Linked DNA regions of Homo sapiens: all the other regions are linked to region 3. The links come from fine-mapping of genetic effects on gene expression. A gene starts in region 3. Each other region holds a variant in brackets. All regions are shown on one strand. Distances are from middle to middle.

The links. PIP is the estimated chance that this variant, and not a neighbour inherited with it, causes the effect. A credible set is the group of variants that fine-mapping cannot tell apart.
Region 1: its variant is the best candidate, but not a certain one, in a credible set for the expression of CSKMT in gastroesophageal junction (GTEx, PIP 0.89).
Region 2: its variant is the best candidate, but not a certain one, in a credible set for the expression of CSKMT in lung (GTEx, PIP 0.72).
Region 4: its variant is the best candidate, but not a certain one, in a credible set for the expression of CSKMT in whole blood (TOPMed, PIP 0.76).

Annotation. Positions count from the first base shown.
Region 1 is chr11:63,552,571-63,557,764 of GRCh38, forward strand. It overlaps PLAAT2 (phospholipase A and acyltransferase 2), which reads right to left. Exons shown (of 4, transcript NM_017878.2): 4 at 200-495. The coding sequence ends at 394. Among named protein-coding and RNA genes, the nearest start is that of PLAAT2, 8.2 kb to the right of the region's middle. RefSeq lists an enhancer at 1,405-1,524. The variant T/C (reference allele first, on the strand shown) is at 2,200.
Region 2 is chr11:62,466,797-62,471,990 of GRCh38, forward strand. It overlaps a transcript of AHNAK not described here. Among named protein-coding and RNA genes, the nearest start is that of SCGB1A1, 50 kb to the left of the region's middle. The variant TTTTG/T (reference allele first, on the strand shown) is at 2,663.
Region 3 is chr11:62,662,266-62,667,440 of GRCh38, forward strand. CSKMT (citrate synthase lysine methyltransferase) reads left to right here and starts at 3,047. Exons shown (of 3, transcript NM_001043229.2): 1 at 3,047-3,067; 2 at 3,382-3,681; 3 at 4,131-5,175. The coding sequence starts at 3,615. The coding sequence ends at 4,786. It overlaps LBHD1 (LBH domain containing 1), which reads right to left. Exons shown (of 7, transcript NM_024099.5): 5 at 2,584-2,708; 6 at 971-1,068; 7 at 552-894. The coding sequence ends at 864. It overlaps C11orf98 (chromosome 11 open reading frame 98), which reads right to left and starts at 2,945. Exons shown (of 4, transcript NM_001286086.2): 1 at 2,866-2,945; 2 at 2,584-2,708; 3 at 971-1,068; 4 at 552-894. The coding sequence starts at 2,904. The coding sequence ends at 785. SNORA57 (small nucleolar RNA, H/ACA box 57) reads left to right here and starts at 3,157; the gene lies at 3,157-3,305. RefSeq lists enhancers at 3,165-3,394, 4,065-4,174, 4,225-4,274, 4,295-4,394.
Region 4 is chr11:62,631,649-62,636,648 of GRCh38, forward strand. It overlaps GANAB (glucosidase II alpha subunit), which reads right to left. Exons shown (of 24, transcript NM_198334.3): 5 at 3,173-3,352; 6 at 1,797-1,866; 7 at 1,536-1,623; 8 at 1,357-1,453; 9 at 917-1,097. Among named protein-coding and RNA genes, the nearest start is that of B3GAT3, 12 kb to the left of the region's middle. The variant A/G (reference allele first, on the strand shown) is at 2,596.

The sequences.
Region 1 (5,194 bases), 890 kb after region 3:
GCTGGGATTACAGGCATGAGCCACTGTGCCCGGTCTAGTCTCTTCCTTTTCATATAAGAACACTAAATCCATCCTAGAGGCTCTACCCTCACAACCTAATTACCTCCCAGTGACCCCACCTCCAATACCATCCCACAGGTGGGTTAGAGTTCAACATATGAATTTGGAGTGTGAGAGAAACACAAGCATTCAGTCCATAGCAGAGCCCAATTGTGTCTTTAATAGAATTCATACTAAGCTGCATTTCCAAATACATTTTCCTGTGCTTTTAACTCCATTAAAATAAAGATTCATGAACACAAAACAGTAAAATCAGTAAACCAAACTCCACTCCTGCTGGCTAAATAATATTCCTCCGTAAGAATTGGTGGTTGTTGGGACAATTTCTTGGATTTATTGCCTTTCCCGCTTGCTTCTGGCCAGCAGGATCCCCACAAGGCTTGCGGCAGCCAGCAGGCCTGCTGCCACACCTACTGTCGTGACTGCACCAGTGACCTGCAGCAGAAGAGAAGGGAGAGCACACTCAGCATCAGGGCGGGACCACGATACATACACCAGGAAACTACAGCTCAGGAAAGACTCATCTGGCCCAGTCCTCTTCATTTGAATCACAGAGGGAACAAATATTGGCTGGGAGAGGGGATGCCAAGAGGTCAGGCCACCCAGGAAAGAGGAGTGGAGATGTCTGGTGGGCACAGAATGAATGGAAGAATGAAGCCATAGGCGTGATATACACAGAGTCAAAGGAGGAAAACCAGATGCACCTGTGGGTATTAAAAGCATAATAGGTCGGGCTCAGTGGTTCACACCTGCAATCCTCACACCTTGGGAGGCTGAGATGGGCCGATTGCTTGAGCCCAGGAGTTCAAGACCAGCCTAGGCAACATGGTGAGACCCCCATCTCTACAAAAAAATACAAAAAAAAAAAAACAGCTGAGTCCAGGTGGTGCACACCTGTAGTCCCAGCTACTCAGGAGGCTGAGGCAGGAAGATGACTTGAGCCCAGGAGGCGGAGGTTGCAGTGAGCCAAGATTGCACCACTGCATTCCAGCTTGGGTGACAAAGTGAGTCCCTGTCTTAAAAAATAACAATAATAATTAAAGCAAAAAGCATAGTAAACCCCCAGCAAGGACAGAGGGGCAGTGCCCCAATGTTCTAGGTCAGGGCTGGCTGACTGGGGCCCTTGAGGCAGATATGAAGTTGGGAAATCACCCCTGGGAACTCTCACTACACAGGCTTGAGGGCAGGGAGCTCGCCTGGATTGGTCTCAATGTCCCAGGTGCTGATCCCACTGCCAGGCACAGAGTCGGCACTCATAATTCATCTGCTGAACAAATGCTGGCCCATGAGGAGCATTGAGGGTGTGCTTTAATGAGTAAGATTGTCTCACTTATGTGCTGGCAGGAAATGGTTCTGCAAAAGGAAGAAGAAACTGAAAAAACCACAGAGATGTGAGGCCGACCCCCGAGGGTTGGTGTGCTCGGCACAGCTTTTGGGAGCTAGCCGAGACAGTCTGCTGCGATCCTGTGGGTCTGCCCTGCCTGGGCCACTGTCTCTGAGAGACTAGCACTGGAGCGACTGGGGGAAACAACACGGGGTGGGGGGTGGGGGTGAAAACTGTGAGAATGGCTGCTTTCTAGATATCAGCACTGTGCTGGGAACTCTCCAGGCCCAGTATTTTTTTTAATCTGCCTGACAACTCTAGGAGGTAGTGATTCTAATTCCTACTTTCCAGAGGAGAAGACTGAGGATGGACAGTGTAAAGAACTCACGCAAAGGCCGGGGGGGCGGTGGCTCACACCTGTAATCCCAGCATTTTGGGAGGCTGAGGTGGGCAGATCATTTGAGGTCAGGAGTTCGAGACCAGCCTGGCCAACATGGTGAGACCCCCGTCTCCACTAAAAAAAATTAGCCAGGCATGGTGGCGGGTGCCTATAATCCCAGCTACCTGGGAGGCTGAGGCAGGAGAATTGCTTGAACCCAGGAGGCAGAGGTTGCAGTGAGCCAAGATCACGCCACTGCACTCCAGCCTTGGTGACAGAGTGAGACTATGTCTCAAAAAAAAAAGAAAAAAAAAAAAAGAACTCACGCAAAGCCACACAGCTGACAAGTGACAAGGCTCAGATCTGCCTGACTTCCCAACAGGGGCACTTAAGCCCTTCACAGACAGGGAAGCAAGTATTTAAACCAGCGACCAAA[T/C]AGCAGATTTCTGTGGAGTATCAATGAATTTGAAGCATGTGAGTGACTGGGGAAAAGAAAGGGGGAAAAAAAACCATTTTATTCAAATACACTCAGAATTGTTTCCAAGTGTCAAAGACAAACAAAGCCAGACATAACTTAAGACAGCAAAAACAGATTTGATTCAGTCTCTACTGACAGCAGGGAAAGAGCTGAGCTCCATTCCAATTTGTGCAGAGGTGACTGACATTGTAAAGGGAGATGGAGGAGTAGGGAGACGGGTGAGCGAGGGCTCATAGAGTCAGGGAGGTGAAATATTACAAAGGATTAGTCCCTGAATATGCGATGAGGCCAGCTGTGTCTGCTAGCTGGCAATTATCAAAGTTAGGATTCTAACCTCCCACGGATATTGGGGACAGAGGCTCTATCCTTCCTGATGATTATATTTCAAAGGACTGGCTCTCAGGTCCTTGAGGAAGGCACTTCAGAGTTGTAAGGGATATACAGTCAGCCCTCCATATCCATGGATTCCACATCCATGGATCCAATCAATTGTGGATTGAAAACATTTGGAAAAAAAATTTTTTAAAGAACAATAAAAAATAATACACATTTTTAAAATACAGTATAACTACTTACATTGCATTGAGTATTATGAGTAATTATGAGTGGCTCATGCCTGTAATCCTAGCAGTTTGGGAGGCCAAGGCAGGTGGATCACTTAAGCCCAGAAGATTGAGACCAGTCTGGGCAATATGGTGAAACCCCATTGCTACAAAAAAGAAATACAAAAATTAGCCGGGTGTGGTGGCGTGTGCCTGTAGTCCCATCTACTCAGGAGGCTGAGGTGGGAGGATCCCCTGAGCCCAGGAAGGTTGAGGCTGCAATGAGGTGAGATCACATTTCAGTGAAGCACCTCTGCACTCCAGCCTGGGTGACAGAGTGAGATGCTGTCTCGAAAATAAAATAAGTACATGGGAGGATGTGCACAGGTTATATGCAAATATCATACCATTTTATACAAGGGACTTCAGCATCCATGGATTTTGGTGTCCTCAGGGGGTCCTGGAATCAATCCCTTCCCCACCCATGGATACCAAGAGATGACTGTATCTATGTTTCAAAGGGACAGAGGAAGGATTCATAATTATAAGTCCTTTGTAATAAACAGTCTAAGAAAGGGTCAGGGTCTTTGTCAGGTGTTCGTTAGAACAAATGGTAAATTCTCCTGGCAGCAGAGAGCTTTCTTAGGCAGGCATTTATCGGGGGGCTAGGGTCATCCTACGGACACAGCCTTATTTTGCCAGAAGCAGTGCTAGAGCTTGGTCATCTATTAGAGCAGGGGCTGGATGGCGTTGTTGTGTGCCAAGAGTCCTGCAGCTTTCACAAGTCCACTTTCTTACAGAGCAAGAGCTAGAGACAGACAGAGGAGAGTCTTTCCAGACAGACAGAGTCAGATGAGAAGGAAGGAGGGAGAGGAAGAAAGAAAGGCAAGTTATTGGGTGACCTGCAGGAGATGAAGTTCAACAAGAGAGGCTCCAGGACAAGGGACAAACTAAATAAAACTGCCTCCCCTGAGTCTTCCCCATTGGCTTGAGTTCTGACCCCTCAGAAGCATAGCAGAGGGCCAACCACTTCCTAAAATTGGGGTCTTCCAGATTGATTTTGTGGCTTCTGCACAGCCTATAGAAGAGCTTTTAGATGTATGATAAGGCAGCCCACCCCCAATCCCCTTCCGACACCCCTCCCATTCAGAGATAGGTCTACCCTCCTCAGCTCAACAGAGGGGAGACCCTGTCAGCAGGGTTCCCACTGAGTACCAGAGCATGTCCCACCGTGCCCCAGTGCCCAGCATGGCCTGGCAGTCTCTCAGTTAATAGCGTGGTCTCCCTCCTGGGGTACTTGTTTCCAGAAGTTGTGGATTTTCCTTACCCATCTCCCCTTTTTATCACCTCTCCTTCTCCTATCATACAACAGAACAGCTAAATCCTCCCACACCCTGAATCTACGGTGCACAGGCTAAGGTGTAAACACTCCTAGTCACCAGTAAGGGAGGATTCAAGAATGCATTGCTCCTAAACAAAGAGGGCTTCAGAAAGGAATATGCAACCACGTCGAGGCTCCTGCCTCATCTGTCTGCTGCTTTAGAATGAGAATTCTAAAGTGAGATGGTTATCATGAAACTGTGCATTAACACACTCATTTGAATTGAAAAATTGTCAGTTTTTTTCTGAACGTCAAAATAAGCCTGATTAGGCTGATTGGTTTGACAATAACACCTGGCTCGGCTATTTAAACTACACGGAAGACATTTTTCCCTAACTGAATGAGCTAAATGTGCAACTCCAAGATTGTGAAGAAAACATGTACACAAATATGTAATATGCAATATACCAAAATCCATCCTTTCCTTTACAAATTTTTTACATTTATGATTTTTTAAAGTGTTTGATGTCATCTAAGAATGTATGAGGGGATATGTGGTTTTTTAAGTTATCTTGGACTGAGTGTGGTGGCTCACACCTGTAATCCCAAGGGAGGCCGAGTCAAGGGGATTGCTTGAGCCCAGGAGTTCAAGACCAGCCTGGACAACATGGCAAAACCTCATCTCTACAGAAAAATCCAAAAATTAGCCAGGCATAGTGGCACATTCCTGTAGTCCCAGCCACTCAGGAGACTGAGGTGGGAGGATTGCTTGAGCCCAGGAGGTCGAGGCTGCAGTGAGCCATGATCGAACTCCACATGATATACTGCAGTCTGGGTGACAGAGTGAGACTCTGTATCAAAAAAAAAAAAGTTTGTGAGACCCTGTATCCAAAAGTTGGCCAACTATGGCCCATGGGTCAAATCCAACCTGTGAACTATTTTTGTAAAAAATAAATAATACACTTATTGGAAGACAGTCTCGCCTGTTCATTTATATATTGTCTGTGGCTGCTTTTGTGCTGCAAACTACGGCAGCAGGGTAATAAGACAGAGAACACCTGGCCCATAAAATCGAAGACATTTACTATCT
Region 2 (5,194 bases), 200 kb before region 3:
AATGCAAACATTCCCCTGATAGAGAATTTGTGATCATTTAAACATAGGCTACAATGCAAATTAACAACATAACTAAGATAAGGAAGCATTTTAACTATGTAGAATAATAAACTGTTTATAAACAACATACCTGTTAATTATTTGTATACTCATTATGATCCCTAAGTATCTCTTTTAAAAGACCTGGTTTACTTGGTTATGCAAAGCCTAGATCATTCCTTGCAGCTTATTTCAATACATTTAAATTATATCCAAAACTTAGCCAGGCCTGGAGGCGCATGCCTGTAGTCCCAGCTACTTGAGGGGCTGAGGTGGGAGGATCACTTGAGCCCAGGAGGCAGAGAGGCAAAGGCTATAGTAAACCATGTTCATGACGCTGCACTCCAGTGTGGGTGACAAAGTGAGATCCTGTCTTAAAAAAAAAAAAAAAAACTTAGAAAAATAGTATATCCTTGAAAGTAATATAATTGTACTTCTTTAAAAGAAAACAAATTCTACAATTCAAACTTTTGCAGTGATCACATTAGAAAGTATACCCTATAAATGCCTTAAATTCTTGGTGTCTGTAGTCTCTACCTCGCCTAGCATTCCAAAAATCCCTCTTGAGGCTTGGCGCAGTGGCTCACGCCTGTAATCCCAGCACTTTGGGAGGCCGAGGCAGACGGATCACCTGAGGTCAGGAGTTTGAGACCAGCCTGGTCAACATGGGGAAATCTCATCTCTACTGAAAATACAAACATTAGCCGGGCATGGTAGCGCGCGCCTGTAATTCCCGCTACTCGGGAGACTGAGGCAGGAGAATTGCTTGAACCCGGGAGGCGGAGGTTGCAGTGAGCCAAGATCACACCACTGCCCTCCAGCCTGGGCAACAGAGTGAGACTCCGTCTCAAACAACAACAACAAAATGCCTCTTGAAACAGTCAAGCCTTTTGACACCAAGGAAATCATCTTAGCTGTGATTGGTTTGGAAAAAAGAGAGGGACACTCTCAGGCAACTCCCAACACCCTACTAAAACTTTCAGCAACACATCTCTTCAGTATATATTCAGTGGCCCAAAATGTCATTTTCTCAGACAAATGGCTGCATATCATTCACTTCTTTGAAGTTCAGTTCAGCTCACAAAGTACTTCCTGAAGCCTTATCTCAGGTCAGACACAGTGCCGGGGTCAAGGGCTCAAAGATGAGTAAACAACACAAGGTCCCTGTCCTCTAGAATCTTCTTCCATTGAGGGATGATGATATTAGTTATATTAATTACATGGTGATTTGGCTGGGCACAGTGGCTCATGCCTGTAATCCTAGCACTTTGGGAGGCCGAAATGGGCGTTATCACTTGAGGTCAGGAGTTTGAGACTGCCTAGGCAACATGGCAAGACTCCGTCTCTACTAAAATACAAAAACTTAGCCAGGTGTGATGGCACGCGCCTGTAGTCCTAGCTACTTGGGAGGTTGAGGCAGGAGAATCGCTTGAACCTGGGAGGTGGAGGTTGCAGTGAGCTGAGATGGCCCCATTGCACTCCAGCCTGGGTGACAAAGCGAGACTCTGTCTCCCAAAAAAAAGAAAAAAAAAAAAAATATATATATATATGGGGATTTTATTCACAGAGACAGACTACAGTAAGAGCTAGGGTTGGGGTGCATAATGTATGGGCATGTGTGTACAGGTTGCTAAATAAAATTATAGGAGGCCATTGGTTTGGACTGAGCTCCTGCCCTAGGCCCAACAGATCAAACCAAAATGGAATTATTCATGCTCAAGTTCCACACCACCAAGCCAAAACTGTTCATCTGACCTTCTGAGAAATCAGGAGAAAGAGGGATAACAGCCGAATCCTCAAAAAGGCCAGTTTCAGCCAGCATGATAAGGAAGTGTCCTCTGCTTTAGCCTTTACAAGGAGGTCAAACTTCCCATGCTGATCAGTAGTGGGACTGTGCCTGTGAAGAGTCACTGCACACCAGCCTGGGCAACATAGTGAGACCCCATCTCTAGCTTAAAACAAACAAAAAAATTAAACCCTTTATAAGGACAGTAACTCTGAGACGACCCATCTGCTTTTTGTTCTCTGTTTCTGCTTTCCTCAGCTCTTTTCTGTCTTTAAAGTTAACCTCCTCTGCTCAGCTTCTTGGAACATTCATTTCATTTTGTAGAATAAGACACTGCATGATTCTAGAACTGCAAATAACAGCCAATTGGTTTGTTCTTTTTTGTGTATATGGAGAACGAGGTCTCACTATTTTGCCCAGGCAGGTCTCAAGCGATCCTCCCACCTCTGCCTCCTAGCTTGGTGTGAGCCACTTAGCCCGGCCCAATTGGGATCTCCTGATTTCCTTTTTCTTTTTTTGAGTCGGAGTCTTGTTCTGTTGCCCAGGCTGGAGTGCAGTGGTGTGGTCTTGGCTTACTGCAAACTCTGCCTCCTGGATTCAAGAGATCCTACTGCCTCAGCCTCCAGAGTACCTAGGACTACAGGTGCATGCCACCACACCCATCTAATTTTTATATTTTTAGTAAAGAGGATGTTTCACCATGTTGGCCAGGCTGGTCTTGAATTCCTGTCCTCAAGTGATCCACCTGCCTCAGCCTCCCAAAGTGCTGGGATTACAGGCGTGAACTACTGCGTCCAGCCCCAATTAGGATCTTTAACTAACTAAACATGTTGTAAT[TTTTG/T]TTTGTTTGTTTGTTTGTTCGAGACAGAGTCTCACTCCATCACCCAGGCTGGAGTGCAGTTATGCAATGTCAGCTCACTGTAACCTCCGCCTCCCAGGTTCAAGCAATTGTCGTGCCTCAGCCTCCCTAGTAGCTGGAATTACAGGTATTTGCCACTACACCCAGATAAATTTTTTTGTATTTTTAGTAGAGATGGGGTTTCACTGTGTTGGCCAGGCTGGTCTTGAACTCCTGGCCTCACGTGATCTGCCCACCTCAACCTCCCAAAGTGCTGGGATTATAGGTGTGAGCCACTACGTGGGGCCTACGTGTAATTTTTGTCTTTTGACCAGATATAGCAATAGGTAATTCCACCAGGGGGAGAGGTGTCAGAAACAGAGAAAGTAACCTGTGAAACTGATTGAGTTCACAAAGTGGACAAGATAGGAAAAACAAAAAGCACAGTTCATCAATGTGTGTACTCAATCATAAACCAAAAATCACATGAAAAACCTCATAGGGTTTAGAGAATAACTCTCATAACTAGAGCTCTGGCCCCTAGCTATCAAAACCACAAAAGTTGGCCACGTGCAGTGCTCACGCCCGTAATCCCAGCACTTTGGGAGGCCAAGGTGGGCGGATCACAAAGTCAAGAGATCGAGACCATCCTGGCCAACATAGTGAAACCCCATCTCTACTAAAAATACAAAAATTAGCCGTGTGTGGCCAGGTGCAGTGGCTCACGCCTGTAATCCCAGCACTTTGGGAAGCTGAGGTGGGCAGATCACAAGGTCAGGAGTTTGAGACCAGCCTGACCAACATGGTGAAACTCTGTCTCTACTAAAAATACAAAAATTAGCCAGGCATGGTGGCATGCGCCTGTAATCCCAGCTACTCAGGAGGTTGAGGCAAGAGAATCGCTTGAACCCGGGAGGTGGAGGTTGCAGTGAGCTAAGATTGTACCACTGCACTCCAGCCTGGGTGACAGCAAGACTCTGTCTCAAAAAAAAAAAAATTAGCTGGGCGTGGTGACACACGCCTATAGTCCTAGCTACTCGGGAGGCTGAGACAGGAGAATCGCTTGAACCCGGGAGGCGGAGATTGCAGTGAGCCGAGATCGCGCCACTGCACTCCAGCCTGGGCGACAGTGAGAGACTGTCTCAAAAAACAAAAAACAAAAAACAAAAAGCTGAGTTTAAAACCCATCATCCAGATGCTCATTAATGCAGCCACAGAGTGGGGCTTGGGTGCTGATTAAAGAGTCCGACAGTGATCATCCCAGGTGGGCAACATCAATTTCAATGATGACTTCCACCAGATCATCATCTCCCACCAACCTCCATCTGTCACCTCTTTTTTCTTTCAGGGAAAAAAAAAAACCAAAACTTCTAAACAGCCACATTGTTCACAATAATCCAGTGCTTACCCAGCTGCTGAACTTCAATAGAAGAACTAAATAATACAAGATGCTGGGCCTGTTCCAGTCCCCCGAGACCTGACCGTCCCTGCTGGACAACTCAGATGCCTCATCCACCTGGGGTCAACCCCTGCAAGCTGAAAGAACGTCAGATTTTATTTATACCAATACGAAAGAAGGCTTTGGGGAGAAACTTTTGTCAGGCAAGAGCTTCAGCCTCCTGCATCCAGCTGCAGGGATGATGGCCCATGGGGAGGTGGCACACCTCAGAGGAGTCTTTTTCTGACTGCAAACACAGTCCAAGCTACCCTGGAGCAGAGTTTCTTAATAGTGACGCCTTTGACATTTTGGGCCAAAGGATTCTTTGCTGTGGGAGGCCGTCCTGTATGTTGCAGGATGTTGAGGCTACTAGGGGGGCTTTGGTTGTCGCAACTAGGGGGGGCTTCCACTGGCATCCAGTGGGCAGAAGGCACGCCAGGCTAATTTTTGTATTTTTAGTAGAGACGGAGTTTCGCCATGTTGGCCAGGCTGGTCTTGAACTCCTGACCTCAGGTGATCCGCCCACCTCAGCCTCCCAAAGTGCTGGGATTACAGGCATAAGCCACCATGCCTGACCAATTTTATACAATGTTTTAAATAATTTTGTGCATTAAACAGAATTTTGACTGTGACCTGTCACATGAGGTCAGGTGTGGAATTTTCCATTTGTGGCATCATGTCAGCACTCAAAAAAGTTTGGGTTTTGGGACATTTTGGATTTCGGATTTTTGGATTAGGGATGCTCAACCTGCACTATCACTGTACATGTTGCAAATGGGGAAGGTGAGGTTCAGAGCCCAGTAAAGGCCTGCTTGGGGGCCAGGCAGCCCATGGCAGGTGAAGCCGGACATGCCCTGAGGCCTGGGTGTGGGAGACTGGCCGGGATGCGGGTACCCACAGGCACCCCTCAGCCCCGCACACTGGCAGTTAGGAGAAAGAGAATGGCAGAGAGAAAGGGATCTGAGAAAAGCAAGAAGAGCACAAATGAAGAAAGGGAGAGGTGAGATGGACAGGGAGAGGGGTGGAGAGATAGAGGAAGGCCCATCTGCCCAATCCCTGGGTGACTTAAGGGCTGCTACGACCACTCGCCCCA
Region 3 (5,175 bases):
CGAGACAATGGCTCACTCTGTTGCCCAGGCTGGAGTGCAGTGGGACAATCTTGGCTCACTGTAACTTCAACTTCTCGAATAATCTGTATCTTTGTCATAAATGGAAAGTTAGAGTATCACTCACTAAGGAGACAGATGAGATCACAGCACACTACAGCCTTGAGTTCCTGGCCTCAAGCAATACCCCGGTAGGCAATCTCCGCCTCCCGGGTTCAAGCGATTCTCCTGCCTCAGCCTCCAAGTAGCTGGGATTACAGGCGTGCACCACCACGCCCGGCTAATTTTTTGTATTTTTAGTAGAAACGGGGTTAGCCAGGCTGGTCTCGAACTTGTGACCTCAGGTGATCCACCTGCCTCGGCCTCCCAAAGTGCTGGCATTAGAGGCGTGAGCCACTGCACCCGGCCAGGCACCACCACTCTTGAGGGCAGAGGCTGGCATCTTGTTGCATTTGCACAAGGAAGCTGTGGGTACTGCTTCCTCACTGTCTTGTTTCCATACTCCCCAATCTTTTCATGACCCATCCCCATTCCTACATTTAATCACACACATCTCAGAGTGCTAGGGCTTTATTACAAATGGAGTTGACTGCTAGAGAGGCCCTTCTCCAATCTTTCTTCTGTACCTTCTTCCCTCCCAAAGACATCCCTCTAGGGGAGGTCAGTAGGCCATTAGGTAGGAGGAAATCTGGAGAGTGAAAAGGGGCCTTGCTTTTGTCAAAGTCCTCTGAAACAACCACTGAGTCTGAAGGCTGGCTCCAGTTGAGAATCTTCTAGTGGAAGAGGTTTAGCTCTCATCTTCAAGGTCCTTCATTTCTACATCCTGGGGGGCTTTTGTCTTCTTTTGCCTTTTGAGCTGTGGTTCACTAGTCCTGGCTGGCTTTGAAGGGGCTTCCACTGAGTAAAGGGAAGAAGGAAGTATTATCCCAAATAAATCCAGGATTCCCCTCACCCACCTCTGTCCCAGCCTCACCTTCCATGGCTGTCTTCTCTTTCTGGGCAAGCCGGATCTGCTGGAGGAGTTTTCTGCGCTTCTTCCCTGACAGTGTAATGTTGGCACGTGCACTGGACCTGATGGGTAAGTGGAAATAAAGAGAGCTAGGTTAACCTGAACCAACTGAGGTCACACAAATAGTTCTGGCTATAGAAAAAGTATTAAATAGGCTGGGCGCAGTGGCTCACGCCTGTAATCCCAGCACTTTGGGAGGCCGAGGCGGCTGGATCACGAGGTCAGGAGATCGAGACCACGGTGAAACCCTGTCTCTACTAAAAATACAAAACATTAGCTGGGCGCAGTGGCGGGCGCCTGTAGTCCCAGCTACTCGGGAGGCTGCGGCAGGAGAATGGCGTGAACCCAGAAGGCGGAGCTTGCAGTGAGCCGAGATCGCGCCACTGCACTCCAGCCTGGGCGACAAAGCGAGACTCCGTCTCAAAAAAAAAAAAAAAAGGAAAAGTATTAAATAAATATAATATAAATAGTAATAGAAACCCTAAATATTTACATTGAAGAAGCTAATGAAAGGACATAGATCGGGGGCGGTGGCTTATGCCTGTAATCCCAACACTTTGGGAGGCTGAGGTGGGCGGATCACCTGAGGTCAGGAGTTCAAGACCAGCCTGGCCAACATGGTGAAACCCCGTCTCTACTAAAAATACAAAAATTAGCCGGGTGCAGTGGGGAGCACCTGTAATCCCAGCTACTCGGGAGGCTGAGGCAAGAGAATAGCTTAAACCCAGGAGGCAGGGGTTGCAGTGAGCCGAGATCATGCCACTTCACTCCAGCCTGGGCAACAGAGGGAGACTCTGTCTCAAAAAAGAGGAAAAAAAAAAAAAAAAAAAAAAAGGACACAGAAAGTAATTAATGGGATGGGAACTCTTCCTCAAGACACAGGAGGCCTTGAAACTTACAAGTGAAATCCTATGAGTGCCTTTGGGAAAATTCTTCGAGTTTTATGCGCCTATGTGTGCACTTTTCTGTATGTAAAAATAAGTTTACTTATAAAAATCTGTGTGAATGTATAACATTACTTGGAGAATGGAGAGCCAACAGATTTCCTGATATTCTTTTTTTTTTTTTTTTTTTTTTGAGACGGAGTCTCACTCTGTGGCCCAGGCTGGAGTGCAGTGGCGTGATCTCGGCTCACTGCAACCTCCGCCTCCCAGGTTCAAGCAATTCTCCTGCCTCAGCCTCCCGTGTAGCTGGGACTACAGGTGCCGGCCACAACGCCTGGCTAATTTTTGTATTTTTAGCAAAAACGGGGTTTCACCATGTTGGTCAGGCTGGTCTCGAACTCCCGACCTCAGGTGATCCGCCCACCTCAGCCCCCCAAAGTGCTGGGATTACAGGTATGAGCCACCATCCCCGGCTTTCCTGAGATTCTTAACAGAATCCAAAACCCAAAGAAAGGTTGTCTGCTACAGGTATTGTGAGAGGCTATCAGAGCTTAGGAACTAACAGCCGACAGACATTCCCCGCATAAGCGTCAGTGCACAAGGTGAGCTGAGAGGTGAAGCTGCTCCGGAGCTCTGCAGGGAGGAAGGAAGACTCGGTGGGGACGACCAACAGGAAGAGGGTCTAGTACTTACGCCCGCTTCTTGAGGTGGTGCCGCGTGATCAGCCCTTGGTCTATCACAGCCCCGACCACCCGGTGCCTCAGACGCCGCTCCCGATTCAACACCCGCCGGCGTTTGAACAGCTTCTTCTTCAGCTCCTGCCGGGGAGAAAGATGCGAATCAGATGGAGTGGGCTCGCCGCGACCCGGGGCCCCTCCACCAGGCAGCCCCGGCCCCTCACTGATCCCATCTCGTGCGAGATAAAAGGGCTCAGGAACGCTTGAGGAAACAAAGTCGCGGCCCCCACACAGTCACCGTTCGGGGCCGGTTGATCTTTCCCCCCGGAGCTCCCATAGTCGCGATTCCACTCCAGTTCACGGTCCGTACTTCCGCTCAGCGCCGGATCCGCGGGGCTCCGCCCCGGCCTTCCGCGGGCCAATCGCAACTCGGGGGCGGGTCCTCGGGCTATATAAAGGAGCTCCGCGGTGCGGGAGGCCTTTCGGAGGGTGGTGAGCTAGTAAGTGTGGTTTTAGCTGTAGTAGCCAGATTGGGCGGCCGGGAGTGGTGGGGGTGCCGGGTGGAAGGCTCTGGGCGGGGTCTCAGGACCCTCCTTTTCTTGGCGGGGATCGGGCTTGTGGTGCCGCTCCCCGTAATGTACGGAGGAAGAGGGAAAGGGCTCTGGCCCCCTCGGCGTCATGTCTTCGGTGCTGGCGGCTTCCCATCCGCTGGTTCTATCCTCAAACGCCGGGACACCGGGAATCTCGGAGAAGGACAACCGAGATCCAGCTGGCTCCTCCATCGGGGTGCTCACACTTTCTCATTTGATTTCAGGTCTGCGGACGCTGTATACCCTCCTCCACTTCCCGCTGCAGCCAATAAAGGCCGTTCCTACCATAGTCTGTGTCCGCGTTCTTTTTTCCGGGACTGCAGAGTTCGGGGAAGCTGTACGCCGCCTTTCGCTACGCGGAATTTGCAGATCTTCCCCTGGACCTCAGGCCTCTCCGGCTGGAGTAGGGTGGACGCTTCACATAAGCTTCTCTGGTCGAACTTACCCGAATCTCCAGATGGCCGCGCTGCGTCGAATGCTCCACTTGCCGAGCCTGATGATGGGGACGTGCCGCCCCTTTGCGGGTAGGGAGGTGGGGGCAGAGTGGAGAGGGCAAGGTGGGGGCAGAGTGGGGAGGGTAAGGTGGGTTCCTCGTGAGTCAGGAGTGTAGTCCCTGAAATTGTGATTCTCAAACCCTACGGTGGGCCGTGCGTGGTGGCTCACGGCTGTAATGCTAACACTTTGCCAGGCCGAGGCGGGCAGATCGCTTGGCCCAGGAGTTCGAGACCAACCTAGGGCAACATAGCGAGACCCTGTCTACAAAAAAAATTAACCGGGCACGATGGCGCCTATAGTCCTAGCTACTCAGGAGGCTGAGGTGGAGGCTTCAGTGAGCCATCATTGTGCTACTGTACTCAACCCTGGGTCACAGAGTGAGACCCTGTCTCAAAAAAAAAAAAGACGCCAGTGTGTATATACGACGTTTTTGCAGTGGCGACATAGACCAAGTGACACCCTCCAACCGTGCCCACAGGCTCACTGGCTGATAGTTGCCTGGCGGACCGCTGTCTCTGGGATCGGCTGCATGCCCAGCCTCGTTTGGGCACTGTCCCCACCTTCGACTGGTTCTTTGGATACGACGAAGTCCAGGGGCTCCTACTGCCATTGCTGCAGGAGGCACAGGCTGCCAGTCCTCTGCGAGTGCTGGATGTGGGCTGTGGGACTTCCAGCCTATGTACAGGCCTCTACACCAAATCTCCACACCCAGTGGATGTGCTGGGGGTGGACTTTTCTCCTGTGGCTGTGGCCCACATGAATAGCCTCCTGGAGGGTGGCCCAGGCCAAACACCTCTATGCCCTGGACACCCTGCCTCAAGCCTCCACTTCATGCACGCCGATGCTCAGAACCTGGGGGCTGTGGCTTCTTCAGGCTCTTTCCAACTACTGCTGGACAAAGGCACATGGGATGCTGTTGCCCGGGGAGGTCTGCCTAGGGCTTACCAGCTTCTATCAGAATGCTTGAGGGTTCTAAACCCTCAGGGGACCCTGATTCAGTTCTCAGATGAGGACCCTGATGTGCGACTGCCCTGCCTGGAACAAGGGTCCTATGGCTGGACTGTGACTGTGCAGGAGCTAGGCCCGTTCAGGGGCATCACCTACTTTGCTTACTTGATTCAAGGCTCTCATTAAAGACATTTTAGTAGTCCTGACCCTAGTATTTCTGTGGGCAAGGAGAGGGCTGAAGAACTGTCTTTGCAAGCTATCTGGCTGCAAAGTGAGAATTTGAGTCCTGGCTTCCACATTTACTAGCTGGGTGCCATATTGCTGAATGTTTCTGTTCCCCAGTTTACTCATCTGCAGAGTGAGAATAACTTGGAGTTACGGAGATTACATACAATGATGTGCGCAATATTTAGCACAAAATGAATGCTGAAAAGAGAAGGTACAATTGGGTCATTCCCCAGTTTCAACTAACTGGAGCTCCTAAAAGCAGCAGACAGGAACTGAATCAAAACCCCTGCGCTGACTGACTTGTATAATCTAGTGGCCTAACCTGTAAGCCTCATTTTTGTCACCTG
Region 4 (5,000 bases), 31 kb before region 3:
AACAGGGTTTCACAATGTTGGCCAGGATGGTCTCGATCTCTTGACCTTGTGATCTGTCCACCTCGCCCTCCCAAAGTGCTGGGATTAGAGGTGGGAGCCACTGCACCCGGCATCATCTTGCTTATTATTTTTATTTTTCAAACGTTTTTATAGAGATGGGGTCTCGCCATGTTGCCCAGGCTGGTCTCGAACTCCTGGCCTCAAGCGATCCTCTTGCCTCAGCCTCCCCAAGTGCTGGGATTACAGACATGAGCTATCATGCCCGGCCCCATCTTGCCTCCTTTGTTATGTGTTTAACGTGTCTTCCTCCCTGTGAGTCAGAACCTTTCTTTTTTTTTTTTCTGAAACAGAGTCTCACTCTGTCACCCAGGCTGGAGTGCAGTGGTGAAATCTCCGCTCACTGCAACCTCCACCAACCAGATTCATGCAATTAACCTGCCTTAGCCTCCCGAATAGCTGGGATTACAGGAGTCCGCCGCCACACCCTGCTAATTTTTGTTTTTCTAGTAGAGATGAGGTTTCGCCATGTTGGCCAGGCTGGTCTCCAACTTCTGACCTCAGGTGATCCGCCCACCTCAGCCTCCCAAAGTGCTGGGATTACAGGCATGAGCCACCACACCCAGCCCAGAACCTTTTCAACCTCAGTTAACACTATATCCCCAGCACCCAGAAGAGTACCTAGCACGTAACACACTGATAATAAGTGCATTCCGTCAGCCCAGAATAGGCAATGCCTTCCCTAAGAATGTGAGTGAGCGTGTCACCTGGGAGTGATTAGGGAACTCAAATGCTGCCCACCAGGCCCACAGCCCCTTCTTAAACCCAGTCCCCAAATAGCTAATGCCCCTAGTATACCTATTTGCCTCAAGGCCTGGAAGCTTCACTCCCTCCTTTTTCCCCGTGCCTGTGCTCTCACCTTCCCGGCAGTGTTGGAAGATATATCAACCCAGGTCTCTGCAGCATTGAGCCAGAAGATGCCCAAGTCGCGATGAGGGTTGTGTGCCAGGAGCACAGGCACAGACCCATACAAGGCCATTGGGTTGTACAGCTCATACTGGAACACATCCAAATTGTAGAGGCGATATGGCTCCCCACCCCTGCAGGCAAACAGACAGACTTGGGCTGCTAACTGGCCCCAGGCTGCGTTATATGCTAACACCACTCCACAGACACAGGTGAGAGATAAGCAAAGGCTCCTCTTGTCCTTTCTCAAAAAATTTTCTATCACCAAAGGTGATTCTGGACACAAGAAATGACCCATGCTTGCCTAGAGTATCCAATATGCACACCCATCTCCCTAAAGGCCTGACTCCTTCCTGCCCACCTCCATCTTCCTGATGTCACCATAGGACTCACTCAGTGACCTTCAGCCTCAGGTTGTCTGCATGCTCAGGGATCCCATAGACATGCTCCATGCCTGGCAGAGAGAAGTCCAAACCCACAGACATGGGGCCTGGAAGAAAAACAAACAAGCTTCAGAGCTTCTGCTTGGAAAGGAGCCCTGCACCCCAGCCCAAGGAACCCGAGCCCCTCACCATACGGCTTGCTGTCAGAGTGAGTTTTGAATGTCTCCTCCCAGGCTCCTGGCTCATCTTTCTCTGCCTTCCCCTGAGTCTCCTCTGGCTGTTAAGAAGAAAAGAGGACCACTCTCCAATCATACCAGTTCTCTCTTTCCCCGCTCCCATCAACTAAATCCCATCCCTGATGGGGAGACTAAGTTCAAGTTTCTCATGGGCCTCTCCCCTCCACCCTCCCAGCCAGCCCTATCCTCCAACCACCCACCCGCTCCAACTTGCCTTGTCGCCATCCCTGGGTGTTTCCTCAGGCTGGGCCCCATCGCCCTCAGCTGGGTCTTTTGATCCTTGCCTGGAAGGTAGGAGAGCTGTCTGCTCCAATCCAGAGGGGGCAGGGACGAGGGGCTAGTGGAAGGAGGGGTTGGGGAATAGAGAGCCAAGGGTCCAAAGGAACGAAGGCATTGGAGGAAGGGACTAAATGTTAAAGCTTGGAGAGGGAACCCACAATGAGCAGATAAGTTTGCAAAGGATGGGGAGAGAAATGAGAAAGGAAAATGAGGAATAAGTGCCACCAGGAGGCACAGGCCTGAACACCAGCCTCTGTCAACATCCCAGAAGAGAAAGGCAGAATGATTCAGGGGCCTGGGTTATGAATGCCAATCCTGGCTCTGTTGCCTCTACTGAGAGATTCTGGCCCCAAGTGCTCTCCCTGGGCCTCAGCCTCCTGGCCTGACACAATGGCTTTGCAAAGGCATGTGGGTCATACTATACCAAGCCTCTACAGACATACATAGGGACTTCAAGAGATTCTGCCAAAAAATGCTTTCAAGGGCAAGTAGCTCTGCCCAGAACCTCAGGTGCCCCTCAGCTGAGAGTCAGGAACCCCAGCAATAGGCAGCATCTCTCCATCCCCTGGCAAAGCAATAAGCTCCCTACATTCCCGAAGGACCTGACTTTCAGTATCTCACCTTCCTTCTTCTGGGGGCTCCCAGCCAGGGTAACAGGTAACAGGACCAGACATCACACAGCAGGGGAAAGTGGGGTGAGTGAAAGGCTGGAAGGGTCTGGGGCACCTCCCCCC[A/G]AAGGCTAGAGTGAGGAATGGGTAAGGGCAGAGGAACAGATACAGTACCGGTGGCCATGGATTTACCTAGAGAAAAGGTTCTTGATCTTATCCCATATGCTACCAAGCGTGAGATTAACCTTATCCGAGAAACTGGGGCAGGAGGAGATGGGTAGGGAAGGGGAAAAAGAGGCACAAAACCAACACAAAAACAGAAACATAAAAGTGAGTTTCAGTCGACAAACTTCCAGAGATGGGGGGAAAAAGAAACCAAAAAAAATAAATAAATAAAAACGAAGAAAATAAATCTGGGAAATGTGATGATGTGAGAAGGGGAAGAAGGAGACACAGACCCAGGCAGGCCTCCCAGAGATGCCCAGGGTACAGCTCAGGGACAAAAGTGACTGCCTCCTGGTCTGTACAGGAAATGGAAAAAACCGCACCCGGGTCTGGTTCCTACCCTCCCTGACAGAGAGCTTCTCCCAGCCCCCAGGCCCTACCTGGCTGTCCCACCACCGTCTCCTCCCCGTGCCAGACCTCACAACACCCCTATGCTCTTTCACACTAGGTTCCCTGCAGTCCCAACCCCTGTACTCACGAGACCCTAGGGGCCCTCTGATGCTCAAACTCCAAGAGTCCTCGGGCATTGACACTAAGCAAAAGACTTCGGTCCTCTAGTAGGTCAAGGCGGAATGGCCGTGCTGTCAAGATGATCTTGTAGGGTCCCTCAGCCATGGTTAACTCCACACTGTTCTCATCACGACCAGAGACAGAAAGCCTGGGAAACATATCAAAAGAAATATAAGGAAGTACAAAGGGCCAAGAGGAGTAATGACACTTTAGAAGACCGGGGGAAATCTACCTGTTAAGAGAAATAGGCAGTGTGGTAACAGAGCAGGGATAGACAAGTTAATAAACAGAACCAAAGGGCCCAGAAACAGACCCAAGCATATTTATTACTTTTTTCTTTTTTTTTTTTGAGACGGAGTTTCACTCTTGTTGCCCAGGCTGGAGTGCAATGGCGCAATCTCGGCTCACCGCAACCTCCGTCTCCCAGGTTCAAGCAATTCTCCTGCCTCAGCCTCCAAATAGCTGGGATTACAGGCATGCACCACCACACCTGGCTAATTTTGTATTTTTAGTAGAGATGGGGTTTCTTCATGTTGAGGCTGGTCTCAAACTCCTGACCTCAGGTGATCCACCCACCTCGGCCTCGCAAAGTGCTGGGATTACAGGCGTGAGCCACTGTGCCTGGCCACTTATTACTTTTTTAAATGTACTAAATACTAAGAGGTGGCATAGCAGATGAGAGAGGAAAGGAGAACTATTCAAAAATGGAACTGAAAAAACATTTTCCATATAGGAAAAAAAATGATTTTCCAAATATGAAGAAAAATGATGTACTTCTTTTTTTTTTTTTTGAGATGGAGTCTCGCTCTGTTGCCCAGGCTGGAGCACAGTGGCACAACCTTGGCTCACTGCAACCTCCACCTTCCAGGTTCAAGTGATTCTCCTGACTCAGCCTCCCTAGTAACTGATATTACAGGCAGGTGCCACCACACCCGGCTAATTTTTTTTTGTATTTTTAGGAGATATGATTTTTCGCCATGTTGGCCAGGCTAATCTCAAACTCCTGACCTCAAGTGATCCACTTGCCTCGGCCTCCCAAAGTGCTGGGATTACAGGCATGAGCTACCACGCCCAACCCCTTGATATCATATTTCTATCTAATACCAGATACAAGTATCAACTGCAGAAAGATTATGACTTAAAAAATTTTTTTTTCTTAAGATAGTCTCACTCTATCACCCAGACTGGAGTGCAGTGGCACAATCTCGGCTCATTGCAACCTCTGCCTCCCAGTTTCAAGTGATTCTTGTGCATCAGGCACCCGAGTAGCTGGAATTACAGGCGCCCACCACCACGCCCGGCTAAGTTTTGTATTTTCAGTAGAGACGGGGTTTCACCATGTTGACCAGGCTGGTCTTGTACTCCTGACCTCAAGTGATCTGTCCGCCTTGGCCTCTCGAAGTGCTGGGATTACAGGTATGAGCCATCACACCCAGCCTGCTTAAAATTTAAAAGTAAAAGCTTTAGGATGGGCTCGGTGGCCCACTATTGTAATCCCAGCACTTTGGGAGGCCGAGGCAGGTGGATCGCTTGAGCCCTGGTGTTCAAGACCAGACTGGGCAACATGGCAAAAACCCATCTCTACCAAAAATACAAAAATTAGCCAGTCTCATAACCCGATCTCAAAATAAGTAAATAAATGAAAGCAAAAGTGTTAGAAGAAAATTAAAAAATATATTTTTGGCCAGGCATGGTGGCTCATTCCTGTAATCTCAGCACTTTCGGAGGCCGAGGCAGGTGGATCATGAGGTCAGGAGTTTGAGACCAGCCTGGTCAACATAGTGAAACCCTGTCTC